Regions from separate parts of the Homo sapiens genome. Here region 1 is linked to region 2. The links come from fine-mapping of genetic effects on gene expression. A gene starts in region 2. The other region holds a variant in brackets. All regions are shown on one strand. Distances are from middle to middle.

What was found.
Region 1: its variant is fine-mapped to the expression of TGFBR1 in tibial artery (GTEx, PIP above 0.99).

Annotation. Positions count from the first base shown.
Region 1 is chr9:99,028,612-99,031,519 of GRCh38, forward strand. All of the region lies in intron 16 of COL15A1 (collagen type XV alpha 1 chain), which reads left to right. Among named protein-coding and RNA genes, the nearest start is that of TGFBR1, 75 kb to the right of the region's middle. The variant G/A (reference allele first, on the strand shown) is at 1,823.
Region 2 is chr9:99,103,920-99,106,827 of GRCh38, forward strand. TGFBR1 (transforming growth factor beta receptor 1) reads left to right here and starts at 1,194. Exons shown (of 9, transcript NM_004612.4): 1 at 1,194-1,383. The coding sequence starts at 1,287. RefSeq lists silencers at 722-1,321, 1,412-1,921.

The DNA of each region.
Region 1 (2,908 bases), 75 kb before region 2:
TGCACTTCAGCCTGGGTGACAGGGTGAGACTCCGTCTCCAGAAAAAATTGAAAAAAGATTGATACAACAGACTTGGGGGAAAGGGTGGGAGGGAGTGAGGGATAAAAGAGTACAGATTGGGTACAGTATACACTGCTCAGGTGATGGGTGCACCAAAATCTCAGAAATCACCACTGAAGAACTTACTCACGTAACCAAATACCATCTGTTCCCCAAAAAACGTATTGAAATTATACAAATTAAAATATTTTTTAAATGATACCTCAAAAAGAATTTATCAAATAGATTATTCTATGCTGAGTTCGATGATAGAAATATTCCTTACTTTATTTTTCCCAAATCAAGATGATCAACTAACTCTTAAGATCTTTAGCCCAAGAAGGAATGGGTGAGGAGTAGCCTGCTTTCTCAGCAGTAGAATGTTTCTAGAAAGAATGCAGAAGAACTTGCTGAAGAAGATGGATCTCTGAAAAATCATTCCTTTCTGCTTTTGCACTGCAGATTCTGCCATTCAGTTCTCGGAACACACCTAGTATTAACAGTTGTTGTTGATTTTCTACTTTCAGAATCTAAGTCATTCATGTTATTCTGCAGTCTCAAAAGGTACTGGGACACCTGGGCAGGAAAGAGTTTGTGCTTGGAAATTTTCTTCAGTGTCCAGAATTACTGTGGAATGCTGAATTGCCAGTAATTGCCTTTGAGTAATTTCACTGAGCTGCCAAACTGTCATTGTAAAATCAGCTTCTGTCTTTTCCGTTGATGTAAGAGAAATACAATTAGATCATCATCACCTTCCCTTTCTCCAAGCAATCCCAATTGGTCTTTGAACAATTCTCTAAACCTTGTATAAGAAAGAAAAGAGAAGTAAGCTGCTTTTGCCTAGGATGCAGTAATGGGTTTAGACCTTCTAACAACATGTTTAAATGAAACACTGAAATAGTTGCCTAATTTCCTATTTTATATCTTCTTTCATTATCAGAAGTGTTTGGTTCAACATCTGGATTATAGGCCTCCATAAAACCAAATAGATGGCTGGGTACGGTGGCTCACTCCTGTAATCCCAGCACTTTGGTAAGCCTAGGTGGGTGGATCACCTGAGGTCAGGAGTTTGAGACCAGCCTGGTCAACATGGCGAAACCCCATCTCTACTAAAAATACAAAAAATTAGCTGGGCATGGTGGTGGGCACCTGTAATCCCAGCTACTCGGGAGGCTGAGGCAGGAGAATCACCTGAACCCGGGAGGCCGGGGTTGCAGTGAGCCGAGATCGTGCCATTGCACTCCAGCCTGGGCAACAAGAGCAAAACTCCATCTCAAAAAAAAAAAAAAAATCATATAGACCATAGTCAATTGTAACAGAAAAGAAACTGGTTATCAGTATTACAAACAGCAGAAGGAAAACCAACAGACATCCACAAGGCAGTAAGATGTGCTGTCTCAGAAGCCACACAAGCAAAAAGAATCCTCATCTCCATTAGGTTCTTTGAGGTTCCTGTGTGCTGAAATTGAGTAATGTCCTTAGAAAATCCAATTCACCACAGTAAGCCAACATTTTGAATCAATTCTAAACCACGATGTTGTAACAGACGGCACTATTTTACCTCATTCCTTTGCAATGTTTCCATTAGTGAACTGATACCTTCATATTTCATCACTTTTAAAACCATACTTGCAGCTCTGCTATTTGGAATTCCAAGATTGCATGCATGCCCTCACTGCACAAAAATTCTCTCACTAAGAAATAATGTACAACTCCAACATCACCATTTTGGGAATAGGAGCCTTCCCTCAGCCTGTTCATTGGAGCTCCTCCTTTTCACCCT[G/A]CCTGTTCACATAAGTTCCAGTAAAGTGGACTCTTCTACCCACAAGTTAATCTACTCGTGTTCCAAGCTGATGGCCATCTTATCTGTGAGTCAATGGAATGGATTCAGATACTCTCTTTTTACCATGTCTAAGCTGGATAAAATCATCTAAGACCATAAACCAAGGCCCATGATATCTTCTAGAACTTCCTTTGAAACTCTATAAGATGCCCTCTTGATTGGAAAGGAATGAGGAAGGCAACTGAAACAATTCAGTTTTTCACTTTATGGACATAATTTTCTGTAACAAGATCAGCCGGCCATGCAGCTACAAGGTTTTTAGAGGGAGGCTACTTTAGTTTCTGTTTCACAACAATCCTGATGGTAGTTTGACTTGTTACTGAAAAGATGCACAAGATTGGCACTTTCATTAAAGACAGTTTGCAATGGGCAGCCAGCAACAAGCCAATCATACCCAAGAGGAGCAGACATAGCAACTGTAGCCTCTGGGTTAGGCTATAAAATTGGCATCCAGTTATTGGAGTCATGTTTCCACTGCAGGTGGAAGGTCACACTTAGTTTCTCCCTGGTGAGGCTGGCCAGCAGGGAGGTGACAGAGCCTAGTCGCTGTCACTTCTTTCACCGAGCACACCTTCTCCTCCCATCTCCCCAGAATGGCTGGAGTGTCCCTGCTGGCTCCTTTGCCACAGAGGCACCAACTTTCCATGAAGCTGCCCCTGGAGACCTTATGGAGGGCTTTGCTCGCAGAAATTCCTTGCCACTCCAGCCTCAGAGCCTGCCTCCAGAGCCTGGTGCCTCACCTGGGAGCCCAGACCACCCTCAGCCCCTGTGATCCCCATTCCTAGGCCAAGAACTGGGTAGTGTGTCCCAATAGGAAAACACTGCAAGAGATGGGACCCTTCCCATGCCCCACGCATGCCCCCAGGTGAGAGGCATTTGTCTTCCTCCAGCATCAGGTGGAAACCCTCACCTAGCAAACCCATGAACCTCACCCATGGGAGCAGCCAGTTCCGTGAGGAAGGTTATCACAACTACCAAGCAAACAGCATGGGCTCGAGTCTGTGAAGGAGAAAGGGGGAGATTGTT
Region 2 (2,908 bases):
ATCAAGGTTTATTTAATTCTAAGCTCAAATGACACAGAAAATAAAATTTCCTCCTTAAAAGGTTCTGCGGAAAAATATTCTCTGTTCTACGTAACAGCCTCCTTGGCTGTGTTTGTGTCTGAAGAAAGGACTAGTCTGACAGGAAGAATTACAAATCTGGAGCTCATTTTGGCGTCGCAGAGGGAAGGTGGGTGGAGCGTCTCGCAGTAAATTAGGAATTCAGAATGAAAACGTAGAGTTTATTTGGGTTTTTAGTGACACCTCAGGATTATTATACAGCAGTGTCAGACACAGCTCAAAGTAATGATGACTGCTCCCCCTCCGCCCCGCGGGAGCTGGGTGCTAAGAAGGGGGAACCCCTCCTTTGAGGGGTTGGGGTGGGGATCCTCCCTTTCCAACCTGGATCGGGAAGGGGTTTGAGAGGAGTGCGGCTTGGATCCCCATCCTGGATCTGTGCTGGAGGGAGGCGGGAGGCTATTTGGGGGTGTGTTTGGGCTCAGGATCTGGGTCTGACGCTGGGATCTGAGGACTTTCTGGGTTTGGAACTGGGTGGGGGAGCTGGGTTTGGGGTGACCGCTGGGAGCAGGAGGAAATAGGAGAGTGAGTCGCATGTGAAGGGCACTGAGGAGGGATCTTCGGGGGAATGCTGAAGTTGATGCGTGGACTTGGAGAGGGGAAGTTGAAGTGGATGCAGGGGCCTGGCGCTGCAGCGGATCTGGGTGGCATGTGCTGGGATTGCCAATGCGGAGCTGTGAATGGGGTCAGGGTGGGGCTGAGGCAGTACCAGATCTTCCGCGCCTAGAGGAGGTTAGAAGAAAAGAGCGTCGAACGGCCACAGCCTTTTTCCGAAAGAGACTCACACAGACACACCCATCGCTCTACCCGGCCCTCCGGGGCTAGCGGCTGAGCGGTGCTGGGGCTGGCAGACCCCGCCCCCACGCGGCCTCTCGGAGCCGGGAGCCGATCGGGCCGGGGCTGGGGTCTGGCGGCCCAGCCCCCGGGGAGCGTGGGGCGTGGCCAGAAACCGGCGCTCGCGGCTGCGGATTGGCTGCCTGGCGGGCCCGCAGGCGGGGCTCCCGGCTGGGTCCCGCTTGGCAGCTCGCGGCGGCGGGGAGGCGGGGCCGGCGGGAGCCCGGCAGCCAATGGACGCGCGTCCTCCGAGCAGTTACAAAGGGCCGGAGCGAGGCCGCCGCGGCGGCTAGGGAGGTGGGGCGAGGCGAGGTTTGCTGGGGTGAGGCAGCGGCGCGGCCGGGCCGGGCCGGGCCACAGGCGGTGGCGGCGGGACCATGGAGGCGGCGGTCGCTGCTCCGCGTCCCCGGCTGCTCCTCCTCGTGCTGGCGGCGGCGGCGGCGGCGGCGGCGGCGCTGCTCCCGGGGGCGACGGGTGAGCGGCGGCGCGGCGGGCGGGCGACTGCGGGGCGCGCGGGCCGGACCCGGCCTCTGGCTCGCTCCTGCTCTTTCTCAAACATGGCGCGGGGCCGGGGGCGCAGGTGGCGGCGCCGGGGCCCGGGCCGGGCTCTCGTGGCGCCGCGCGGCTCGGCGGCTGCCGGGCGAACCGCAAGCGGGGAGCGGAGGCGGGGCAGGGGCGTGTGTCCGGGCGCGGGCGGACGTGTCCGGCTGCCCGAGGCCGCCCCGCTCGGGACTCCCCGGGGAGGTGGAGTCGGGCGGAGTCGTCCGAGGTCCGGGGCTGCCCTCTGGGGTGTGAGTGGGCGAGGGCCAGGGGCGGAGAGTGCGAGGCCGGCGGGGACTGGCAGAGCCGTGGCTGCCCGCCGCCGCCCCCTGGGCACGGCGTGACCTTGTTCTGGGGACCCCCGCCCCAAGAGGGTCCGTGCCAGAGGCTGCCGAACCCGGGGCGGGGTTTGAGGTTGGGGTGGAAGGCGGCTCCCGGGCGGGGTGTGAGCTCCGAGCCTCTAGGGCTTCGTCCAGTGGGAGTCGGGGGCGACGTGTGGTGAGACCCCTGGGTCCGCAGGCCGCCCTGACTCCCGCCCGGCTCGACCCGAGCCGACCCTGCTGGAAGGGGCTGCTCCTCCAGCCAGGGGGGCTTTGTGTGAGAAGAAGGAAGCGCGGAGATGCGCGGAATGTTTCTTCTTTCGTGCGTCTGGGGAGTGTTGAAGTGAGTCCAGTAACCAGACGGCTACGGATTGTTTTCATAGTGGAAACTTGAACGTTTGCTCATTCTGCGGGTTTTGGAAATTTTGGGAACGACTGTGAATTGATTAAACGCTTTTTATTTCCTCGAAGGAACATCACTCACGTTGTTCCTTTTCTTGAGTGACAGTTAATAGTTTGATTCAGACATCTGTATAGCTGGTTTTCAAGGAAGACTGTTGGCTGGATTTTTCAAAATAGTAAATCAGGTTGGGGTAGGTGGTTGGTATCCACAAAGGGATGAGTGAAAAACTTCGTTAGCAGCTGAACTGAGACACTAGAAGCTAAAATACACAGCCTCAGTGTTAGCAACTAAAATGCAGTGAAAGTACATTTCTGTTTCTGAAACTGGACAAAAGATGTTGAAATTTTTTTAAAAAATCAAGACTGACGGTGACGATTATAATCAGTCCTAATAGCTACCGTCTATGTATTGTGCATTACTACGATGTAAATGCATACACTATTGTATAATTACATTATTTAATCACCACAAGTAAACTCCCAGGAGTAGTGGCATTTGCCCCACTTTACAGATGTGCAAAGTGGGGTACAGACACGTTAAGTACCCAATAACTTAAGTGCTAAAGCTAGGATTTTCACTCAGATCTCAGTTTCCCAAACCTGTATGTCATATATATATATAAATATGTATACATCATACTATCTGGCGTAGCCCATTTTTCTTCTTCAGTCGTCTGATGAGCAATTGGTCTTTATTATCCACTTTGGATTCTGTCCTCATGATTTGAGTATCAGAT